Linked DNA regions of Homo sapiens: regions 2, 3, 4, 5 and 6 are each linked to region 1. The links come from fine-mapping of genetic effects on gene expression. A gene starts in region 1. Each other region holds a variant in brackets. All regions are shown on one strand. Distances are from middle to middle.

Region 1 (4,150 bases):
TGTTTGCAATGGACAATAATAAAATAATATGTGAGTGTGGCCTCAGGTATTCTGAGTTTGGGCACTGCTGTTTCCATCTGAGGACCAAGACCTACACATCTCAGTAGCACTGAAAAAGTGAACAAACTGGTATAGAGTGCCAGAAAACTTGATCAGAATACATTATATATACTCTAAACCTGAAAACCACACTCCCTAATATTGCGCTGGTGAGCTGGCAGGTAAAGGAAAAAACATTGAGAAAGACAGCAGCCCCCAGAAGAGAAACAATCCTAAAAGAAATGTCCAAATTGCCAATTACTTTCTGTTTGTCAAAGTCTCTACTGGAGGTGCATGGAAGTTTGGTGAGAAGAATGAACCTTTGTGCAAGATCCCTCAGCTGACAGACCTGTGAGTGCCTCTGGGTGGCTGCTTTGTCTTACAGAAGGCATTTTGTTTCCTGACACTTTTTCCTGTGGCCTTTGCTCTTCGTATTCTGTATGTTAGGCTTCTGTTTCTATCAATATTTGTCATTAATAGCATTTACATTGCTCCTTCAGAATTTATTTATTTTGAGACAGGGTCTCGCTCTGTTGCCCAGGCCTGAGTGCAGTGGCACGATTATAGCTCACTGCAAGCTTGGACCCCCGGGGCTCAGGGGATCCTCCCACCTTAGCCGCCCAAGTACCTGGGGCCACAGGCGTGTGCCACCACACCTGGATAATTTTTTTTTTTTCTGAGTTTCACTCTTGTCACCCAGACTGGAGTGCAATGGCATAGTCTCGGCTCACTGCAACCCGTCTCCCGGGTTCAAGCGATTTTCCCACCTCAGCCTCCCAAGTAGCTGGGATTACAGGCGCCCGCCACCACACCCAGCTAATTTTTGTATTTTTAGTAGAGACGGGGTTTTACCATTTTGGTCAGGCTGGTCTCGAACTCCTGACCTCAGGTGATCTGCCCGCCTTGGCCTCCCAAAGTGCTAGGATTACAGGCGTGAGCCACCGCGCCCGGCCCAATTTTTATTATTTTTATTTTATTTTTTTATAGACACGGGATCTCTCTCTGTTGCCCGCAAACTCCTGGGCTCAAGCGATCCTCCAGCCTTGGTGAGAGCCACAGCGCCCAGTCTCTCTTTAAGAATTTAAAAAGCAGTTTCAGATCACAATATCATCTATCTCGTTCACAGTCCCCTTGCTTTTTACTGTCACCCTTTAAAAAGCATTATACAATTACAGAAACGGTGGTTTAGCAGTGAAGTAACCACCAAAGACTCTTGGCACTCCAATCCTCTGCCTTCTTCAGGCGATAGGATTAAGAATGGGATCCTAGGATGCTTACATGCAATGATGAACCCGAAAACACTTGCAAAGTGCTACGCAAATATTGATCACGAAGAAGGAAGTCCTCTTCCCGCCTGGAGACTGTGTGGGGTATGGCGGGGTGGTGGGGAGAATGTGGTGTCTTGCTCCACCCTCCTGGCGAGGGGAGGGCCTGGCCTGGACCGCAGAGGAATCGAGTGACTGCCCCTAAAATCTCCTAGAACCGATCCCGCGGCCCCGCCCCTCCCGCGGCCCCGCCCCTCCCGCGGCCCGTCAGCCTCTGCCGCGGAGCTGCGTCCGCCACTCATGTTTCTCCGAGCAGGCCTGGCCGCGCTCTCCCCGCTTCTTCGCAGTCTTCGGCCCTCTCCTGTCGCCGCCATGAGCACTGGCACCTTCGTCGTGTCGCAGCCGCTCAATTACCGCGGCGGGGCCCGCGTGGAGCCGGCGGACGCCTCCGGTACCGAGAAAGCTTTCGAGCCAGCAACCGGTAACTGCAACGAGCCGGGGAGGCTGGGGCGCCCTGGGGCCGGATGCGCGGATTTCCCGGCCAGCCCCCGTTTCCTGTGTTCTGCAGCGTTGACTTGAGCACAAGACAGTGACAGTGGAGAGTCTAAGGTTGTGTGTGTAGGCAACTAGCGATTCTGGGGCAACGCGAGTGCCTCCGGGCAGGGATGGGTAGGGAGGAAAAGCAAAGCTGATGAGTTGCGTGGTAGGATCGTGAGTTGTTTTACCCGGGCCAGAACAGAGTTCGCAAAGTACTGGTGGGGGAAGTCGTGCCTCTGTTAACTTCCTTTTTTGTTTGTTTTGTTTGTTTGTTTGTTTTTTGTTTGTTTTGAGACAGGGTCTCACTCTGTCGCCCAGGCTGGAGTGCAGGGGCACCATCTCAGAGCTCACTGCGCCCTCTACCTTACGGGCTCAAGTGCTTCTCCCGCCTCAGCCTCCCTGGTAGCTGGGATTACAGGCTCCCACCACCATGTCCGGCTAATTTTTGTATTTTTAGTAGAGACGGGTTTTCAGCATGTTACTCAGGCTGGTCTCGAACTCCTGAGCTTAGGTGATCCTCCCGCCTCAGCCTCCCAAAGTGCTGGGATTACAGCCGTGAGCCACCAAGCCCAGCCAACTGTTCCCCCTTTTAAAACCAGGACTGATGTATTATTGTCTTCAAATGTGTGCATAGGAGAGGAATTCTAAAAGAACGGGGCGGGGTTGTGGGGAAGATAATCATTTGTGCTGGGAATGAAGGAACGCTCACAGATAGTTTCTAATGACTACGAATGAGGACTTTGTCTCCACATTCTAATATTAAAATATTTCTGCACATTAATCAGAATTGGGAAAGGAAAAAACCCCACCTTTATTCAGTACTTTCTTCCCCAGCTTTATTGAAGTATAATTAACAAATAAAAATTGTATATACTTAAGGTGTAAAACGTGTTGTAATGTATGTATACCTTGCAAAATGGTTACCACGGTCAATCTAATTATCCATTGCTTCTGCATAGTTAATGGCTTTTTTTGGATAGTGAAATATTTAAGATCTATTCTTTTAGCAAATTTCAAGTATATGATGCAGTATTGGTAACCATAGTCACCATGGTCTACGTGAGCTCTCCACAATTTATTCATCTTGCTGAAATAAAACTTTTTAATCCAGTGCTTAATGTGTGCTAAGCACTGTGCTAGGCACTGGATTTACTCTGGGAACTCTGAAGGTCACAGAGATAAGGAAGAAGGGGCTTTTTGTTTTGGTTTTGTGTTGTGTTTATTTTGCTGGGTTTTATGGAATATATGTGGGGAGAAAAATGTAAATATTTTGTGTAAAATGTAGCCAGAGCAATAAAACTGATTTGCAGGGGACTGGAGAATTTAGTATTTGACCATCCACACTAAACCACAGAGCAGTGACTTGGCAGAGCCAGAAGGCATTATCACATCTCTTCTTTATATAGGAGGAAACAGCTTCTCTACCCCGACTTAATCCTGATACAAAAGAAAGAAAAATTGCTCTTTGCTTTAATTGCCTACAGTGTGTGTGATCCTCAGCCACCGCCTTTACCAGCTGGCTATTCAAGTTTGTAACAGAAATTGCAGATTTGTGAAATCTCCCTGGAAAGAGTCCCAGGAGTTCTTGTGAAGAGGATTTGCTGAGTTGGCAAACTTAAAGAATTCTTGTTGGTAGAGGCAGTACAGTCCTTGGGCTATGGGCCTAGAAAAACTGATTGTTTCATAATTTGCACCAGAATAGGGAGAGGGAATAAAGGTGGAATAAGAAAAGGAAATCTGGGAATTTTTGAGAAAAAAAAAATGTTCCTTTAGGGTTGCCTTATCCTGATATTACTGCTTATTAACTATATTTATCAAGTATCAAGTAGTATGATATAACCTACATAGAATATAGACAAGGGATTTACAGTCAGAGTTTATAACCCAATAGACTGATTACTTTTGACTTTCATTTTACAAGACCCCTGAGATTCTGAGATAATGTTTAGGAGTGTTGCAAAACTTAATCAGAAGTTAATGTTAGTAAACTCAACTGTAAAATAGTAGAGGGCAGGGGTTCTTAACTCTAAATCCTTGATGAGTTTAGGGCAGGGGACATGACATTCCTGTAATTCTGTTATATGTTTAAGTAGATTTTTCTGGAGAGAGGTCTGCAACTTTTATCAGACTCCTAATGTCAATGACCGCAAAATACAGTTAAGAACTGCTAGGCCGGGTGTGGTGGCTCATGGCTGTAATCCCAGCACTTGGGGAGGCAGAGGTGGGTGAATCACTTGAGGTCAGGAATGTAAGACCAGCCTGGCCAACATGATGAAATCCCGTCTCTACTAAAAATACAAAAATTAGCT
Region 2 (4,150 bases), 130 kb before region 1:
GGCAAAGATGAAAAGGAAACAGAATGACACCTAAAAGTCACAGATATGTATGCAGGCAAAGAAGTTTAGCCTGGGTTTTTTTCCACCTTTTAGTGTTATTACACCTGTCCTTTAGGGGGAAATATGAAAATCTGGTTTGGTTTGCTTTTGAGATGGGGTCTTGCTACGTTGCCCAGTCTGGAGTACAGTGGCACCATCAAAGCTCACTGCAGCCTCCAAGTCCTAGGCTCAAGCCATCCTCCTGCCTCAGCCTCCTGAGAAGCTGGTGGCACATACATGGCTAATTTTTAATTTTTCGTAGAGACGGGGTCTCTCTCTGTTGCCCAGGCTGGTTTTGAAGGCATCCTCCTTCCTTGGCCTCCCAAAGTGCTGGGACTAGAGGTGTGAGCCACCGTACTCAGCCATAACCTTTTTTGGTTTTTGTTCGAGACAGGTCTTGCTCTGTCACCCAGGCTGGAGTGTAGTGGCACAATCACAGCTCACTGCAGCCTCGACCTCCCATACTCAAGCATTCCTCCCACCTCAGCCTCTAGACCTGCAGCACTGCACCTGGATAATTTTATTATTTGTAGAGAACAAGTCTCACCATGTTGCCCAAGCTGAGAATCTGGTTTTAAACATAGGTCAAAATAACTTTCTCGACCCACCACAATTTTCATTTTATACAGATGGGGTCTCACTATGTTGCCCAGGCTGGCCTCAAACTCCCGGGCTCAAGCAATCCTCCTGTCTCTGCCTCCCAAAATGCTAGGATTACAGGTGTGAGCCACCAGGCCCAGTCTTGGACTTTTTTAATAACAAAAATATCAATAATCTTAAAGGATGACAAACTATCAATCATTCGTATGTCAAAAATGTACAAACAAGCTTGGGCAACATGGTGACCTAGTCTCTACAAAAAATAAAGATTGCCGGCGTGGTGGCGCACACCTGTAATCCCAGCACTTTGGGAGGCCGAGGCGGGCGGATCACAAGGTCAGGAGATTGAGACCATCCTGGCTAACACAGTGAAACTCCGTGTTTACTGAAAATACAAAAACATTGGCCAGGCGTGGTGGCGGGCACCTGTAGTCCCAGCTACTTGGGAGGCTGAGGCAGAAGAATGGCATGAACCCGGGAGGCGGAGCTTGCAGTGAGCCGAGATCATGCCACTGCACTCCAGCCTGGGCAACAGAGCAAGACTCTGTCTCAAAAAAAAAAAATAATAAAAAAAATAAAGATTAAAAAGCCAGCCCAGGTAGTGGCTCACACCTGTAATCCCAGCACTTTGGGAGGCAGAGGCGGGCGGATCACTTAAGTCTAGGCATTTGAGATCAGCCTGGCAACATGGCAAAACCCCTTCTCTACAAAAAAAAAAAAATTAGTCGGGCATGATGGTGCAAGCCTGTAGTCTCAGCTACTCTGGAGGCTGAAGTGGGAGGATCACTTGAGCCCAACAGGTGGAGGGTACAGTAAGCCAAGATCTCACCACGGCACTCCAGCCTGGGCAAAAGAGTGAGACCCTGTCTCAAAAACAAAACAAATCAAACAAACAAAAAAATTAGCCAGTCATGATAGTGCCAGCCTGTACTCCCAGTTACTCCAGGTTGAGGCTGAGGCTGCAGTGAGCTGTGACAGTGCCACTTACTCTGGGCTAGGTGGAAATGCGAGACCTTGTCTCAAAAATTAAATTAATAAATAAAAATGTACAACATGCTTTGAAAACTGCAGAAAAACGGACCCTTCCTTTCTTGAGAGTTTCTACACTCTTCCTCCTGGATAAAAATAGCAGAGAATTAGCTACTCCCACATTGGCTCACCACTATCCCATCCCTCACTTTACCCAAGTAACACCAAAAGCTTGATTATCAAGTTAGAACAGGTGACGACTGAGAAACACACAAGAAGAACAATAACAGAGTTATTCACCTTTTAGGGTCGCAGTTTTCACCCTCGTGGTAACTAAATTATTCAGATGATTACCAAGATCATTTTGTTTCTAAAAGCTCATATGCAAGTTTAAGCCTCCTCCCCACTTTAGGAGGACTGGACTTCAGCTTAAAATTTGGACCCCACTACATGCCAGGCAGGCATTGTGCTAGGAGGGCTGGGAAAACAGCCATGAACAACAACAACAAAAAATGCTCCCAATCCAACAGGAATATGCCAGAAGAGCAAGAATAATTCTAAAAGAACAGGTAAAGCTTCCTGAAGGGCTAGCATTCTGGTTTTGCTTTGAATTACTAGTATAAGTCATAGTAAAGAACATACTCAAAAATTACAAATTTTTTTAAAAGCCTTCAACCAGGGAGCACACAGAACAGAAACTTCAGGACCTAAAGCAGGCCGATTCCTAACCCCGGGAGCTACGGACGAGATCAACTTCATCA[A/G]TAAAGAAGTCCAGCAGCGCCAGCCGCCGTGTCTGGCTGGGCTCCTTGCGCTAAAGTAGTCCAGACCAGGAGGGAAAAATGTAAAACCAACATGGAGGAGGGGCTACTGACGAGTCGGTTCGGGAGCTAAAACCTCGTGGCTCTTTCCTCATGGCGCCAACCAGCCTTCCTGCTCTGCTCTCCCCAGCCGGGAGAAGCATCATCCTGCCTCTCCAAACCAGCACCCAGCACCCAGCTCTCAGGATCCCTTGAGGAACCCGTGCTCCAAATGAAGTTGGAGGGTGTTAAACGGTGGGAAAAACAAGTAGCCACATCTTAAAGGCTGTTAGGGGAGCAAAGAAAGAACCATCTGGGAGGACTCCACCCTTCTCCACCTGCAGAAAAAACCCCGGGTAAAGCTAGGAAGTCATTTCCCTTGTCTCTCCTTGCCTTGCGGATAAAACAAAGGAAACAGGCTCCTAAGAGGGTCAGACACCCATACGATGACCCCCTTCCGTGGATCCAAGACGCGTACGTCCTGGACACCGAAGAGCTTGGAGCCAGTACAACTTTCTCATTGAAGCCGACCACGTTTCCTCTTATAACCTTAAAAAACAGAAGCCCCTACTATTATCGTTTCATTGATGTCACGGCACCTATTTGGCTCTCAGACTTTTACCCGGAAACCCCTGTAATCCCCAGCCCTTGCGTGCAGCCCCACACTGGGCTCCCCTTCCCCGGGATGCCGCCTCGCGCGTTCCCGCCACCCTCGCCCTCTCGGCCGCGCTTCCCGGCTCGCTCCGCCCTCGGCACCAGGCTGCGCCGCGGGGCGAGCACGTCTGTGCCAGACCGGGGCTTGAGGGAGTCCATCGGGGGTTAGTGGGGGATCCTGCGGAAAGCCCTCTCCCCCGACACTGGAGTTGCAAAACAATAAGCATCCGCTTCCCTGCCCTTCCCCCATAGGACCCCGGCCACGAGTTATTAACGCGGGGGGAGAAAAGCCGGAGGAGCACTCCCGCCCTGCGATCGTGGCCGCGTACCCCCGGAACCCCCAAGGCCCGAGTCTTCGCCTGCCCCCGCCGCAGCGCCCCCAGGCCGCGCGGGGCGCACTCGGCGCTGGAGCGCGGCCGGGAGCGGAGGCGCGCGGGCCACGCGGTGGCTGCCGCAACTGACACGGCCCGCGGCCGCCGGCCACATGCGCCGCCCAGGGACAGAAGCCGGGAAGGGAGCGCGGCTCCGGGCCCCGCCGTACCTTGCCGCTAGCTGTTCCCCCGCTGACGCCTATAAGGAAGGGCTCGCCGCCGTTGGGCTGCTGGTGGTTCTGCAGGGTCTGCTCGCTGTCCCCGGCCATGGTTCGCGCCGCCCCTCCTCCCGCTGCCTGTGCGAACGGACGCACGCTCCCCGCCCGCGCCCGCGTCGGACTCCCTCCGCTTTCCGCAGCCGCCGCTGGGCGCTGCCGGGGCTGAGGCCGCTGTCGCTCGCCTGCGAGCCGCTCGGAGCCCGGTGACGGGGCTGGGTTTCCCGAAGGAGCCAAGAGCCTTCCTTTGCCCGCAGCGGCTGGTCCGGTTTACATCCCAGGCAGAGGTCAGCGTGATGCTGCTGCTCCAATCCGGGCGGGCAGCGCGCTGCTATTCGCCGAGGCGGAGGCGGCGAGGCGTCTGGCCCCAGCCTCCGCCCCTCCCGGGCCCCGCCGCCGCCCGAGGTCTCTGCGAAAGGTGTGAGCCCGACCTTCCCTCCCACCCGCCCGGTTAACCCTTTCTCCGACGCGCCCTAGTGGACCCTGGGGGAAAGAAACAGGCTGT
Region 3 (4,000 bases), 66 kb before region 1:
TTAAGTTGACCACTCTATTTAAAACTGCAAGGCAGGGCGCGGTGGCTCAGGCCTGTAATCCCAGCACTTTGGGAGGCTGAGGTGGGTGGATCACGAGGTCAGGCCTTCGAGACCAGCCTGACCAACATAGTGAAACCCCGTCTCCACTAAAAATACAAAAATTAGCTGGGCGTGGTGGCACATGCCTGTAATCCCAGCTACCTGGGAGGCTGAGGCAGGAGAATTGCTTCAACCTGGGAGGCGGAAGTTGCAGTGAGCCGAGATTGCATCACTGCACTCCAGCTTGGCCAACAGTGCAAGACTCTTGTCTCAAAAAAAATAAAAATAAAATAAAACTGCAACCTGCCCATCTCCCCTACTCCTAATATTCCTTACCCTGTTCTATTTTTTCTGTTGCTTTTATTACTTTCTAATATACTGTATGATTTACTTATTTATCATGTTATTGCTTATTGTGTATTTCTACCTGCTAGAATGAAAACTCCACTAGGGCACGGTTCTTTGTTGTTGTTTACCTATGTATCCTGTTTACCTAGAACACTGACTGGCACATAGTAAATGTTTAACAAACATTTGTTGACTTGAATGCTTTCTTCTTTTGCCCCATATATGCAGTCCATTACCAAGCCCTATTGTTGTTTTCCTGAATAGTTTTCAGATCATTTCACATCTCTTCATTTCTCCCATCACCACCTAGTCTAAACTTCTATTATATTTCATTTAATCTGCTGCAGTAACCTCCTCTCTGGTCCATCTGCAGCCACTCAAATTTGCCCCCTATAATGCATCTAGGGTAATTTTTTAAAACACAAATCTGATTATGTTACTTGTCTTTCTTAAAACCTTTCAATTTCTTCACATTGCTTTAGGATAAACATGTGGCCTGTAAGGTCCAGCACAGCACAGTACCACCCTCCCTTCTCCTGGCTACATCTTGTATCATATTCTCTCTTGCTCCCTATTCTCTATTCATTCATGCCTTTTTTCTGTCCTCTGGGCTAGTCTTATGGTTTCCTACTACAGGCACTTTGTATCTGTTGTTCCTCCTACCTGCGATAAGTTTCCCTTCTCATTTTGTTTAGTAAACTCCTACTCATTCTTCAGATCTCAAAGCCTTATCCAGTCTCCCAGACAGGGCCAAATCTTCCTATCATAGTTTATGATTTATCCACATACCTCTCCTTAGAGTGGTTGTCACAACTGCAGTTTTACCTATATATGATTATGGTCATCAGGGTAATGTCTCTCTCCTCAACAAAACTGTAATTGCTATGAGGACAAAGGCCATTGTATCCACAGTACCTAATGCAGTGCCTGGCACATATTAGATACTTGATAAATGTGTATTTAATAAATTATCTGTGTAGCATAACATCACATATATTCTTTGTGAAAAATTGTTCTGCTATGATCCTATGCTAGTTGGCAGCATGCAATGGCATCCCTGTATACATTTCTTCATGTCATTTATATCATTGAGTAGTTTTATGAAATACAAAACAAATTTAGCTTCAAATTGGTTTGAATATTCTTATACCTTAAATATTTATATAATATGGATTTGCCTTATAGATTTTGAGCTTCACTGGTATCTACAATATTGCCTTGTCTTTAATTATTTACTTTATAGAAATAAATGAAAAGTCTCCTTTACTGTACACTGCAATTCAAAGTAATACAGTTGAGGCCAGGTGCAGTGGCTTACGCCTGTAATCCCAACACTTTGGGAGGCTGAGGCAGGTAGATTGTTTGAGCTCAGGAGTTCAAGACCAGCCTGGGCAACATGGCAAAACCCCATCTCTACAAAATGTACAAAAAATTAGCCTGACATGGTGGCATGTGTGTGTGGTCCCAACTACTTGGGAGGCTGAGGTGGGAGGATTGCTTGAGCTCAGGAGGCGGGGTTTGCAGTGAGCAGAGAGGGGAGATTGGGCCACTGCATTCCAGCCTAGGTGACAGAGTTGAGACCCAATCTCTAACAAAAATGAAACAAAGTAATACATTTGCCAGTTTACACATCTGTAGTTGCAATTTTACTATAATTTCTTCATATGCTTCCTTTGAAGGTAAGTATGAGGTAGGTTGATGATTGGAATGACTCATGGCATTTCTTGTGGTCTTAGGTCCTCTACTCTGGATAATCTACCAAAACTCAGTAAACGTGTATTATTTTTATTTATGTGATCAGTCGACTTATTTGATTGCTTGCTATGTGTTTAGTTTACTGTAGTAAGTACAATATGAAATGAGCGGCCACAAATTCTGTCTTCTGGAATGTATAATCAAATGCACAACTATTATATTTAGCATGAGGAATATTAAAAAGGAAAAATATAAGGTAAATTTCCTCTTTGAACAAATGTCTTAATTGCAAATACAGAATTCCTTCTGATACTTTGTATTCAGAACGTAGTATGAATTTAAGCAAGGGAAGTTTGTAGGGTTTTTGAAGAATATCAAAAATATAAAGAGGTTTGAATCAGAATTT[G/C]ATACAGGTTACTTTGCTTGTGCTGATCTGGTCCTTGGCATTTTTAGAAGAATACTGTTGTCCAAAAAGCAGTCCTACTGAGCTGCTTTTAACAAAAGGAAATGCTTTCTTAAAGGTAGTGAGTTGGTTGACTCAGGTGGTCACTGGGCTTATAGATGTATTCTAAATATCAGTAGGTCTTCTTTTATTGTGTTACTATTATAATATATACTAATGAAAGGATACTTCAATAAATGAAAAAGATTAAAATACAGTATATATAACTTGATTCTTGTAACACAGTTGTTTATTTGAGAGCACTTACTAAGTATAAATTGCTGTGAAGTATGAGGTATTTCTGTTGTTTACGGTAAAATAGGATAAATCTTTTAGAATAATTTATAAACTGTTTGGCAGAACTCTGGAATTTAGAATGCAGGAATACAGATCATGGACAGAAATGTGTTTCATAGTAGACATCTTTTATTTTTGTCAACTCTGACATTTCTACTTCTTGTTGTCAGGTGAGATTCTGATGAATAAATATCCACACACCAAGGTTTCATCACAACCTCATGAAGTTTGAAAAACATTAGATTAATTTATCCCTAAAAACAATTTATCTAGTCTCAATCTGGTCTTCTAGAAGACCAGACTAATGTTTATGGAATTGTCTTATGTTTCTATTCTCTAGCCTTCTGTCTTTTTATTGCCCTGTTTTCTATGCAGTCATGGTTAAATGCCAAGTAGTTGTGTTATAGTCCTTCTGGGGTGGGAAAGAAATATTTTTGTTTCTTTGTTTAATAACAATGATAAAGAACAAAACATTAAGTGTTTTCTGTCCATTTTGTCTTTTAAAATGTTATCCTTATAACATTTTAATAAAAATGTTATCCTTATAACATTTTAATAAAAATGTTATCCTTATAACATTTTAATAAAAATGTTATCCTTATAACATTTTAATAAAAATGTTATCCTTATAACATTTTAATAAAAATGTTATCCTTATAACATTTTAATAAAAATGTTATCCTTATAACATTTTAATAAAAATGTTATCCTTATAACATTTTAATAAAAATGTTATCCTTATAACATTTTAATAAAAATGTTATCCTTATAACATTTTAATAAAAATGTTATCCTTATAACATTTTAATAAAAATGTTTATTATTTATTTATTTATTTTTTTGAGACAGGGTTTCACTCTGTCACCCAGGTTGGAGTGCAGTGGCCCAATCATGGCTCACTGCAGTCTTGACTTCCTGGGCTTCCATGATCCTCTCATCTCAGCCTCCTGAGTAGCTGGGACCACAGGAGTGCACCACCATGGCCGGCTGATTTTTGTAGTTTTGGTAGAGACGAGGTTTCACCGTGTTGCCCATGCTGATCTCGAACTCCTGAACTGAAATGATCTTCCCATCTTGGCCTCTCAGAGTGCTGGGCTTACAGAACTGAGCCACTGCACCCGACATAAAATGTTATTTTTATAACATTTTAAAATGTGAAATTTGACATTTTTCTTTTAT
Region 4 (4,088 bases), 48 kb after region 1:
AAGTTTGTTGTGTGAATGAATTACTATAACAAATGAACTCTTATAGACATGAAACTTAGAACCAGACAGACCTGAGTTCAAATTCTAATCCTTCTACTCTGTAGCTATTTGACCTTGTGAAGTTTAAATAGTATATGAGAGGCTTTTCCTTATCTGTAAAATATGAGGAAAATCCCATCTCCTTTAAAGAACTCTGTAAGAAATAATTGAATAAAATCCTTTTAAATATGCAGTGCCTAGACACTGAAGATATTCATTAAATGTTTATTTCCTTCTTCTGTCCCTGATAATAGCTCAGTGAACTACTATCCAAATAGATGAACACCTCCTGGAAAACTTACCGGGTGGTAAACACCTCCAACAGCTAGAAAAAATAAGAAGGGAGGATACACTTCCAACCTGGAATTGACAGAAAGAAACTTTTAAAAAGTGCCCTTTTTAAGTATGCCTGTGTAGAATTATGAATTTTTTTTTTTTTTTTTTTGAGACGGAGTGTCTCTGTCACCCAGGCTGGAATGCAGTGGCATGATCTCAGCTCACTGCAACCTCCGCCTCCCGGGTTCAAGTAATTCTCATGCCTCAGCTTCCTGAGTAGCTGGGATTACAGGTGCGTGCCACCATGCCTGGCTAAGTTTTGTAGAGATGGGGTTTTGCCATGTTGACCAAGCTTGTCTCCAACTCCTGACCTCAAGTGATCCACCCACCTCGGCCTCCCAAAGTGCTGGGATTACAGGTGTGAGCCCACCTCACCCAGCCAGCACTATGAATCTTTACATCTTCCTTGCCAAGTTAGAAGCTTGGGGGTAAAAATAAACATTCACCGCAGGGAGAAGACCTGGTCACTATCATCCACCCTCCTTTGCTCTGCATGGGATTAGAGGTCACTTGGAACATGCTGAGTAAAAGGACCTCACATCTAACAAATGGAAGTGGAAGGTCCTGGTGAGTCAGAGTGGGTTTCCTTACAGCATTCAAAACCTCTTCACTCCCTAGGCCTGGGAGAGTCAACATCGGTTTAGATGGGTCATGCTGCAAAACTGTAGTAGGTAATGCAACCATGAAGACATTTTTTGAAAAGAATATCCCGAAATCCCACCATTCCAACCACTCTTAAGTTTGCTTAATAGTCAATGTGTTCACATACATAATTTTTGAATACTTTTAATGAGGTGCCCATGATTGTCACCATCACTATGACTCAGCAAATACAGCGCACTAAGGGCTGAGGTGTTAGACAGAAAACACCCACTCTGCAGATGTCTTTGGTGCCCGGCAGGGCCGACACTCACGTGTTCTGGTGGGCTCGCTGAATGCAGTTGAAGATGTGCCCATTTTCAGGGTCCGTGCTGTACATGATAGGATACTGTCACAACAAAGCACATACTGATCAGATGGTCAAGAGGAGCATTCAGTGTTGAAAGTTAAAATGAACCTTAAAAACAATATATTCCAAAGTATCTTCTTTCACACCCTTGATAGATGACCATTCAATTTCTGCTTAAATATTTATGGTGACAAGGGTCTCAATTCTCAGAAGCAGAGTCAATGTTTCTATTAAATATCCAGGAATAAGAATGTATGTCTGCGCTGTAGTTGCACAAGGGAAAGAGGCAGCTTTGCGCCAAACTCCGTGCTTTTCATTGACGTTAAGCATCAATGGTGGATTTCAGATGCATTACAAAGATACTGTAGGGAAATAGAGCCTTCCTAAGAGTCATCAAATACCACATCCTTTTAAGATTTCCCTTAATAGAAGAACAGAAATTGAGTGTGTGAGAATCTTAATGGAAGTGTCCACTGGAAGGGAAAAAAAAGAAGAAACTAAATATAAAAACTTAAAAGAAGCTCTAGTAAGGGAGTTTAATTATTAAGTTGCTAAACAGAAACAGACATTTAAAACC[A/G]CTCACCAGGGACAACTTTGGTAATTATCCCTTCTAGATCACCTAAAACTAAAGGAAGTGTTTAATAGACCACCTTCCTATGTCTAAGTCCAGGCTAATCTCAACACCACATACCTCTTTTCTACTTGGAAAACAGGAAAATCACCATAAGACATCATTTTTAAAGTGGCACACCATGAAACAATATTGCTATTTAACCCTCTGTGGAAAATACAGTAACTCTCTTCCTAGCAAATAGCTCCAAGCAGAAGTGTACTATTGGAATCCCAGCATTCCTGGTCTTTCTACCGAAGAGACAAAGTCAAACAAGATGGAAACTACTCCCTAGCAGGGCCCTGTATTTCTTGCCTCTTTCCTACCATGAAGAAGCAGAATCGCTAACACAGTCCTGAAACTGCCACTTCTCACAACTAGCTCCTTGCCTCTCCCTCCATGGCTGAAAATAAGTTCTTGGCTAAGCCTGTGGCCCCCAGACAAGCCTACAAGGGCACCAGCTTGTGTTCCCACTTACCTCCACTTTGTACTTCTTGCGGGCCTTGGAAACATTGATGGCTAGGTGGGCCACCATTATAAAGCTGGCAGCACCAGTTAGAAGCACAAAACCATATTCCTTAGAGAGGACAGCCATCTTGCGTCTGTGGAAGAAAGAACACGTTGGGACGGCCCCCAGCACTGTGGCTATTTCATGGTGTGAAGCCTTAGGGAGCAAGATGCTTTATTACTGGCAAATGAGTAAATAGAGACCAAAAAAAGGTATGAATCAATCTGATGTTTCTGAGAAGTCATCAAAGACAGTACCATATAAAATAATTTAAAAATTACTCAACTATGCAGTCTATACACAGAAAAGTATACAGTCATGTATCTTTTTTTCTCTTTTGTGCCTGGGAGATTCTGATCAACATTATGAGATTTATCTACACCACTGCAGTAGTCGTTGCTGTAGAATAATATAGCCAACAAAAATCACATTATTGAAAAAATATTTAACATGGTAAAATGCTAAAGTATACATTACATAGGGAGGGGGAGGGAGGGAGTGAGAGGAGCAGGACATGGTGGGGAGAGGGATGGAGAGGGAGAGAGAGGGAGTGGGGAGGGAGGAGAGGGAGAGAGAGAGAGAGAGAAAGCAAGAAAGTGAGAAAGCAAGAAAGCGAGCATCCAAAATAGTATATGCACAGTGATTCCAAGTTTTTTGCCTTCAGACATGGGGGACACTGTGAGGGCAGGACTCTGAGGCCTCCCTTCGATCCTGGGGCACGTGCGGGTGCAGCAGCAGACATCTCACACAGGTAGGGGAAGGCCCAGGTTGAGTACTCTGAAAGCAGAGCATGGCTCCTGAGCCTATGAGGCTTTGGGCAGCTCCTGAGGAACTCAGATTGCCCATCAAATCATCACTTCAAAGGCTTCCACGAGCCAGCAGCTCTGGTGTGTGTTCTGCCGTCAGCTTTAAAATTTCCATCCCTGGTAATTGCCTGGCTTCAGTCCCTGCTTTTAACCTAGGAGAGTTACCCTGATCTGGAATGTATCTAATCATCCTAACAAACCAACCAACAAGATGGTAAATCCTTATTTTCAAAAGAGGTTAAGTAATGTTTCCAAGGTCTAAAACAGACAGTGACAGACCTGGGATTCCCATTCAGATTCATTTGGTTCCAATATTCCCTTTCAGTATCCCTTGAAACTTTAGAGCCAAACTGACACTGTGGTCAGAGCATCTTCCTTAAAACAGAATTTGGGATAGGCATGCAGCTCAGTTCATTAAAAGTAAGTTTCTCTTAGCACAGCAAAATAGGCCTAACTGCTTTTTTTTTTTTGAGATGGAGTTTCACTCTTGTCGCCCGGGCTGGAGTGCAGTGGCACGATCTCGGCTCACTGCAACCTCCATCTCCCGGGTTCAAGTGATTCTCCTGCCTCAGCCTCCCAAGTAGCTGGGATTACAGATGCGCACCACCACACCCAGCTAATTTTTGTATTTTTAGTAGAAACGAGGTTTTGCCATGTTGGCCAGGCTATTCTTGAACTCCTGAGCTCAGATGATCCACCCACCTCGGCCTCCCAAAGTGCTGGGATTACAGGTGTGAGCCACCGCACCCAGCCTAACAGGCCTAACTTCTTAAAACCCCTCCTCCCCACCATGATTCACAATAATTCTCATCAGTTTTCCCCTTCTACCGTCTTCACTCT
Region 5 (4,000 bases), 58 kb before region 1:
GCCACTATGCCGGCCAAGAGTCTTGAGGAACAGAAATTTAAGGAACAACAGAAGAAGTAAAGTTCTGAAAAAGTATTGCCAGATAAGTTGGAAAGTAGTAGTGTCACAGAAGTTGAGAGGAGAGTGTCAGGGAGGAGGAAGGGCCTGATGATGATGGTAAATGTCTAAGAAATGGAGGTTATTAGTGCTTCTAGCAAAAATGGTTTCAGTGGCATGATGGGGGACAGAAGCCAGATCATATAGATGAAGAAGAGAATGCAGACATTGAGAATGCAGACAGTGAGAAAATGAAGACATTCAACATGGACAACTCTTTCAAGTACCTTTGCTATAAAGAATAGGAAGGATATAAAAATGGAAGGCAGATTATCCTCTGTCCTTAAATTGGCAACACGGTGTATCTGAATTCAAATGATCTTAACATGGAGTGTAACCTTGAATTGTTTGCTCACCCCAGAAAAACTCATCAGAAGTTATAAGAAATAATATTTATTGCCAGGCATGGTGGCTCACGCTTGTAATCCCAGCACTTTGGGAAACCAAGACGGGTGGGTCACCTGAGGTCAGGAGTTCAAGACTAGCCTGACCAACATGGCGAAACCCCGTCTCTACTAAAAATACAAAAATTAACCAGGCGTGGTGGTGCATGCCTATAATCCCAGCTACTTGGGAGGCTGAGGCAGGAGAATCCACTTGAATCTGGGAGGTGGAGGTTGTAGTGCGCCGAGATCGCGCCATTGTACTCCAGACTGGGCAACAAGAGCAAAACTTTGTCGCAAAAAAGGAAGTAGTATTTATGAAGAGTTGCTTATCAAAATCTTATTAGAAATTATGAGATGTAATATTTATGAAGAATTGCTTGAAAGATGATCTATCCATTCTCTAGATTTGTACATTTTAATCTTAGATTAAGCCAGACTATCAGAAATCTGTAAACCTAAACTGGATTATTTTGGACTTCATAAAACGCTTTTACTGTATTTCGCCTTGGCATTTGCATTGTTAGGCTTATTATGAAAAATTCAGCCAGGTATAATACAATTTGTTATAGTACTACTATGGAATATATTCAAAAACATCCACAACATTACACAATTGTCTTTTGATAAGAAATTGTGGAAACTGTTTCTATTAGTTTTCAATATCAGGAAAAGTAGCAGTTCTCATAAGTAATTGATTTATTTTATCTTACGGACACTGTGCTCGAACTGATTTTTGTTTTCCTTTGAATCGGCTGCTGATAAGCCTGGAATGAGACTTGCTCATTCTCATGCAAGAAAATCATGAGATTTGCTCATTTGGTGTTCATCTCCAGCAACTTTATAGGACCAATTAAATGTATTTTTATGTACTGATCCTATATAGTTTCATTATTATCTAACCCTTACTTTTTCTTAGCCCAGATTCCTCACTTGAGCTTATTTACAAATATATACTATATTTGTATATATAGTATATATTTGTAAATATATATATAGTATCTGGGGAAAAGGGAGTATAAAGAGTAAAGCCACTGCACTGAAAGAAGGGAGTTTTCAGTAAGAGGGAAGCAGCCAGCAATATTCAGTGTTCCGGAGAAGCAAAATGTCATTGATTTCACTAGGTGAAGCTCTTTGATAACAATCCTTGAGAGAACCATTAATCTGCAGTGGAAGCGTCCTTTGCTTTTTAACTGAAGATTTGATGTTCCCAATTCTTAATTTCAGGAGCAAATGTTTTGACTATTTTGCATTTCCCTCTTATAAGAAGAAAAATGAATTTACTTTTGGTATATGAATTTTATATAGTTTGTTTTGTTGTATTCCAAATAAAGAAGTCATAAGGGGTTTATTTGAAGGATATACGTGATGAGAAACTCAGGCAAAGCTGAACTAAGTGGTTACAGGAAGGCAGGAACCGTGGTAAAGCAAGTCCTGCAAGCAGAGCAAGTCTTGAGAAAAAGCTGGACAGGGATCTTCACTGTAAGACTTCACTAATTTTTTTGGCATTCAGCTTTTGTCTTCACCTAACCTTCCCTGTGTCCTTCCCCACTCCCAACCCCTTAGGAATATCTGCTCCAGATGCTTGTGTCCTTGGGTTCTATCTCAGTATTTTCATAATGTGATCCATAGATTACCTACATCAATATTGCTTGAGATACTTGTGAAAAATGAAGGGTTCTAAGTATTACTCCCAGACTTTACTGAATCAGGATCTCTGGATGTGGGACCCAGGAGTCTACTTTTTTCTTTTTTTTTTTTTTTAAACAAGCTGCCCATATAATTCTTAGGCAAATTAAAGTTTCAGAGCCAGTACCATATTATAACTTTTCTATTTCTGTTCCCATAGTTAATTGATTTATTTTCCCAAAATTTTCTAGCATAAATTCCTGAGAGAGGAAT[C/T]TAATTGGCCCAGCTGATCTTTTTATGTCATAGGTCATGGGAGAGCCTATGGTTTGGCTGCCTCTTGGGTCAGCAGTAGTAGGACAGAGGGTGTTATAAATCTTCATGAGGCTAACCCTTCAACAAGGTATGGTGCCAGGCAGATGTCCCCAGAAGGTGGATGGGAAAGGGAGAGCAGACATTCTGAAGCTTGTCTGAGTGGGATAAGTATCTCTTTTCTTTTTTTGTTTTGTTTTGCTTTTGTTTTTGTTTTTGAAGCAAGGTTACCCTCTGTCAGCCCAGGCTGAAGTATAGTGGCATGTTCATGGCTCACCACAACCCCAACTCCTCTTGCCTCAGCCTCCTTGAATAGCTCAGACTACAGGCATATACCACCATGCCTGGCTAATTTTAAGTTTTTTGTAGAGATGGGGTCTCTCTGTGTTGCCCTTGAACTCCTGGACTCAAGCAATCCTCCTACCTCAGCCTCCCAAAGAGCTGGGATTACAGGTGTGGGCTACCACACATGGCCTCTTTTCTTCATGACTTGGATTTAAATATGAGAGGAAATTTTTGAAATTTAATATATTTGGGGCCCTGAATTTATACACTCATTCTAGGCCTTTTTCTATGTTATTTGGATTGGCTGAAGGTCTACTGACTCTGTGGTCAGAATGGATGTCATCATTGCTACTAGTTTATTCCAATAGCCACAAGAAATGTAGCCTCCATTTTTGGAGTATTCCTTTTCTGAATTTTAATTTTCCCTTTTGCTAGTCACCTTGGAAAAGAAATCATTCTAAATATAAATGTATCTTTTGCATATTTCCAGATTATTCTCTCCATGAAATTTTGTCAAATTTCATAGATGTTGTATTCTAAAGGTTCACTACTTAGAGAATGCGTAGTTTTTTGTTTTTGTTTTTGTTTTTGTTTTCAGACAGAGTCTCACCCTATCGCCCAGGCTGGAGCACAGTGACGCGTTCATGGCCCACTGCAGCCTCAAACTCCTGGGCTCAAGTAATCCTCCCACTGTAGCCTCCCAAGTAGCTGGGACTACAGGGGCACACCATCACGGTTGGCTAATTTGTAAATTTTTTGCAGAGACAGGGTCTTGCTATGTTGCCCAGGATGGTCTTGAACTCCTGGCCTCAAGTGATCTTCTCACCTCAGCCTCCCAAAGAGCTGGGATTGCCCAGCTAGAACCTGAATTTTAAGTTCATCCTATCAACTGGCTTATAATTTTAGACTATATGCCATTTTAGAGAAATTGAAAAAATAGAAAATTTAAGAGAAGGATAACTAATTTGAGACATCTAAGTACAATCATTATGTTATACTTACAAATTAACTGATTGGCAATTCCCTTTGGTGTAACATAAGCATATATATTAATGTACAGAGTTAAGACATTTAATACCAGAGGTAATTTCAAAAAAACACTAAAGATTTATTTATTTAAATTGAAATATTTTGGTGCTCTGCTGCATTTGAATCTTCTGAGTACAAAACGTATACTATCCCAGGTGTTTTCATCATCTTATTAAATGATATTGAGATAGAGTGCTTTTGTAATCACCAATCAGTGACAGTTTATTTAACAGCTGCTTTGTGCTCAGCATTGTATGTATTAACCATCT
Region 6 (4,150 bases), 83 kb after region 1:
ATGATTGCTTTTTCTACCTTGCATCTCTGTTGCCTCTCTCCATGCAAGTCTCTGCCCAAATGCCACCATCTCAGAAAGGCCTTTCCTGATCAGTCCTTCTAAAATAGGCAAGCAATTGGTCACTATCTCCTTCCCTTGCTTTATTTCTCTTCAGACCACTTACTATCTAATCTTTTGTTATAATGTATTCACTTACTGTGTCACTCCTCCATTATAAAGTAATATCCCTCCAGGAAAAAAACTTCACCTTTATTTTCCCAGGGCCTATGGCAAATTTAACATCTGATAAGTGTCAAATAAATATTTGTTTAATAAAGGAAAGAACAAGTATCTGAGCAAGCTGCTGTGATTTGCCAAGCTGTTTGATTTGGCTTCTCCTTTGTGAATGAGTGGAGTCTTAGCATCACTTCTGCCTCCTCTGATGCTGAGCTGTTTTGCAACAGCTGAGCTGTTTGCTCAGGTAGTGTTATGAGCACACCTTATGTCCAATGTCTCCTCAGCAAAGATCTGCTCGCCTCAGCTCTGACTCTGCCCATTCACTGACATTCTCCTGTCAAATTCCCTGGTCCCTGAGCAAAAGACATGGAGGGCAAGGGAATGGTATGGCAGGGCCAAACACTTCACACAGCTTTTCAGATAAAAAGCTCTCTAGGACCTCCCTGTTTAAGCACTTCAGGTTAAAAGTTGTAAATTAAAAGAGAACAATGACTGCCTGTGCTCTATTATTTTTCTAAGTCAAGTATGGCTGTGCTTTATTTATATTCTAATTTAAGAGATATATCTTTTCACCTTTTTTTTTTTTTAGACAGAGTATCACTCTGTCCCCCAGGCTGGAGTGCAGTGGCACAATCTTGGCTCACTGCAACCTCTGACTCCCGGGTTCAAGTGATTCTTGTGCTTTAGCCTGGATCCTCACCTCTAACCTTATATAAAAACCAACTCAAGATGGATCAAAGACTTAAAATCTAAGACCTGAAACCATAAAGATTCTAGGAGATAACATCTGAAAAACCCTTCTAGACATTGGCTTAGGCAAAGACTTCATGACCAAGAACCCAAAAGCAATGCAACTAAAACAAAGATAAATAGATGGAACTTAATTAAACGAAAAAGCTTCTGCATAGAAAAAAAAAATCAGCAGAGTAAACAGACAACCCAAGAGTAGGAGAAAATTTTCACGATTTATTCATCTGACAGAGGACTAATATCTAGAATCTACAAGAAATTCAAACAAATTAGCAAGAAAAAAAAATTTCTTCCAAAAGTGGGCTAAAAGACATGAATAGATAATTCTCAAAATAGTTATATACAAATTTATTTTATATACAAATGGCCAAAAACATGAAAAAATGCTCACCATCATTAATTATCAGAAAAATGCAAATCAAAGCCACAATGCGATATTATCTTACTCCTGCAAGAATGGCCATAATTTAAAAAATAAAAAAAAATAGATGTTAGTGTGGATGTAGTGAAAAGGCAACACTTTTACGCTACTGGTGGGAATGTAAACTAGTACAACCACTATGGAAAACAGTGTGGAGTTTTTTTAAAGAATTAAAAGTAGATCTATTGTTTGATCCAGCAATCCCACTACTGAGTATCTACCAAGAGGAATAGAAGTCATATTATGAAAAAGACACTTGAACATGCATGTTTATAGCAGCACAATTCACAATTGCAAAAATATGAAACCAGCCCAAATGCCCATCAATCAACAAGTGAATAAAGAAAATGTGGTATATATATACCATGGAATACTACTCAGCCATAAAAAGGAAAAAAATAATGGCATTCGCAGCAACCTGGATGGAGTTGCAGACTGTTAATTCTAAGTGAAGTAACTCAGAAATGGAAAACCAAACATCGTATGTTCTCACTTATAAGCAGGAACTAAGCTAGTAGGCCAAAAACGCATAAGAATAATGTAATACAATGGACTTTGGGGACTTGAGGGGAAGCATAGGAGGGGGGTGAGGGATAAAAGATTACACA[T/C]TGGGTACAGTGTACACTGCTCAGGTGATGGGTGCACTAAAATCCCAGAAATCATCACTGAAGTACACATTCAGGTAACCAAACACCACCTGTTCTCCCAAAACCTATTGAAATAAAAAATATATATTTTATAAGTTTCCTGCTAATGGTCAGTTTAGAGTTTTTTCTGTCTTTCTTAAAATTTTTTTGCAATTACAAAAACTGTAATGAAACTAACCTCATAGATTATCTTGGCAAACTTAAATTTTTTTAAACATTTTATTTTAGATTCGTGGAGTACATGTGCATGTTTATTACATGAATATACTGCATACTGGTGGGCTTCTAGTGTACCCATGACCCAAATAGGGAACATCGTATCCAATAGGAAATTTCTCAACCCTCTCCCCCGCTCCCCCTTCCCTCTTTTGGAATCCTCAGTGTCTATTATTTCCATCTTTTTGTCCATGTGTACCCATTGTTTAGTTCCTGCTTACAAGTGAGAACATGTGGTATTTTATTTTCTATTCCTGCATTATTAGTTCACTTAGGATAATGACCTTCAGCTCCATCCATGTTGCTGCAAAGGACATAATCTTGTTCTTTTTTATGGCTGCTTGGCAAACTTCTGTGAATCTATCCATAGTATATCTCTCTTTTAGTGGGAAAGCTGGACCAAAGGGGCTGTAAATATGATAGCTGCTGCCAAATATTCTTCCCCAAGATTCCATCAGTTTATTTCCCAAAAGCCTGCTTCCTCATGTCATCAACAACATTGGCTATAATCAAACTTAAAAATGTTTGCTAATCTCACAGATATTTCACTTTTTGTCTTGATTTGTACTTATCTAAGTTTATTTATTTGTTTTTCATGACTGTAACTTTTTTTGAAAACTGCCAGTTCTTATCTTTTGCCCATTTTTATATTGGGTTGTCATTTTTTCTTATTAACTTATATAGACTTTTTATAAATTAAAGAAATTAGGCTTTTGCTATCATATATATTGCAAATATCTTTTTTTAATTTGACACTGGTTTTTAGACTTTGTTTAGGCTACTTTTATTTCATACTTAAAAAATTTTATGTATTCACATTTACCAGTTTTTTACTTTATGATCTTTAGATTTTATATCCTTCTTGGTAAGGTTTTCATCTTCACTCATGCTTTCTTTTTGAAATTTTATGGTTTATTTTATGTTCAACTCCTTAATATATGTTAAATCTTTGATAATTTAAGTTTAAATCTTTGGGTCTTTTTAGACACAGGGTCTCACTCTGTTGCCCAAGCTGGAATGCAGTGATGGTATTATAGCTCACTCACTGCAGCCTCAAATTCCTGGGCTCAAGTGATCCTCCTGCCTTAGCCTCCAGAGTAGCTGGGACTACAGGTGCACACCACCACACTTGACTAATTAAAAGCAATTTTTTTAGGGATGGGGTCTTGCTATGTTGCTCCTGGGCTCAAGCAATCCTTAGCCTCCCAAAGAGCTGGGATTACAAAGCCTGAGCTCCCACACCTGGCATATGTTTAGTTTTTGAGGCACCAAAAGGACAGAATGCAGGAGGAATCTAGCCTTTCCCCTTAACAATTTGTCAATGAATTCATGTTTATCCTCTTTGTTTAAAATGTAGCCTTTACCATGAACTAAAATGCTCTAGGCATTTGGTTTAATTTTGGACTCTCCACTTTGTTTTACTGATGTCTATTTTTTTCTATAGGAACTGTTTTACATTTTGCTCACTGCTTGGACTTAAAAAAGCAAAAACATCTTTTTTCCTTAATCATAAAGTCAAAGCCACACATAGGCACAAAGAATGCAAGCACCGGAAGCACACCTTAGCAAGGGACTGTGGGAGATGGATTAATGTGTGGCCATCTGGTACACACGATAATGGGTTGTTGGGGCCAGGGGTACATAGGTATAATATTCTTGTGGATTCTTGATGGGAAGAAATGATCTGTATAAACATAGCAATGGAAAGTTAGGCAAGCAATATATATTAGGGCCAATATCTTGGGGCAAATTCTAGTTTCATTCAAAATAGTAGTGTACCTAGTAACTAGTTGATTATTTAAGTAACTAGTTCTTTATTTAAGGAGTTACAGTGCAATCAAGCTGGTGTTTAGTGGCTATAGACAGGAGATGAAAAGTGGTCTACTTCAGAGAGGAAGGA

Evidence for each region.
Region 2: its variant is fine-mapped to the expression of ALDH9A1 in whole blood (TOPMed, PIP above 0.99).
Region 3: its variant is fine-mapped to the expression of ALDH9A1 in whole blood (INTERVAL, PIP above 0.99).
Region 4: its variant is fine-mapped to the expression of ALDH9A1 in whole blood (INTERVAL, PIP above 0.99).
Region 5: its variant is fine-mapped to the expression of ALDH9A1 in whole blood (TOPMed, PIP above 0.99).
Region 6: its variant is fine-mapped to the expression of ALDH9A1 in whole blood (INTERVAL, PIP above 0.99). The same link has a PIP of 0.9 or more in prostate.

What each region holds. Positions count from the first base shown.
Region 1 is chr1:165,696,013-165,700,162 of GRCh38, reverse strand. ALDH9A1 (aldehyde dehydrogenase 9 family member A1) reads left to right here and starts at 1,601. Exons shown (of 11, transcript NM_000696.4): 1 at 1,601-1,785. The coding sequence starts at 1,605. It also overlaps the pseudogene CA14P1. RefSeq lists enhancers at 1,166-1,345, 1,210-1,792, 1,636-1,865 and a silencer at 1,416-1,605.
Region 2 is chr1:165,827,383-165,831,532 of GRCh38, reverse strand. UCK2 (uridine-cytidine kinase 2) reads right to left here and starts at 3,919. Exons shown (of 7, transcript NM_012474.5): 1 at 3,601-3,919. The coding sequence starts at 3,699. RefSeq lists silencers at 3,031-3,260, 3,321-3,800, 3,881-4,130 and an enhancer at 3,012-3,565. The variant A/G (reference allele first, on the strand shown) is at 2,370.
Region 3 is chr1:165,761,612-165,765,611 of GRCh38, reverse strand. All of the region lies in intron 2 of TMCO1 (transmembrane and coiled-coil domains 1), which reads left to right. Among named protein-coding and RNA genes, the nearest start is that of TMCO1, 5.3 kb to the left of the region's middle. The variant G/C (reference allele first, on the strand shown) is at 2,489.
Region 4 is chr1:165,648,289-165,652,376 of GRCh38, reverse strand. It overlaps MGST3 (microsomal glutathione S-transferase 3), which reads right to left. Exons shown (of 6, transcript NM_004528.4): 2 at 2,413-2,536; 3 at 1,290-1,363; 4 at 342-399. The coding sequence starts at 2,529. Among named protein-coding and RNA genes, the nearest start is that of MGST3, 19 kb to the right of the region's middle. RefSeq lists an enhancer at 764-1,963. The variant A/G (reference allele first, on the strand shown) is at 1,902.
Region 5 is chr1:165,754,291-165,758,290 of GRCh38, reverse strand. All of the region lies in intron 3 of TMCO1 (transmembrane and coiled-coil domains 1), which reads left to right. Among named protein-coding and RNA genes, the nearest start is that of TMCO1, 13 kb to the left of the region's middle. The variant C/T (reference allele first, on the strand shown) is at 2,382.
Region 6 is chr1:165,612,699-165,616,848 of GRCh38, reverse strand. No RefSeq gene overlaps it. Among named protein-coding and RNA genes, the nearest start is that of MGST3, 16 kb to the left of the region's middle. The variant T/C (reference allele first, on the strand shown) is at 1,996.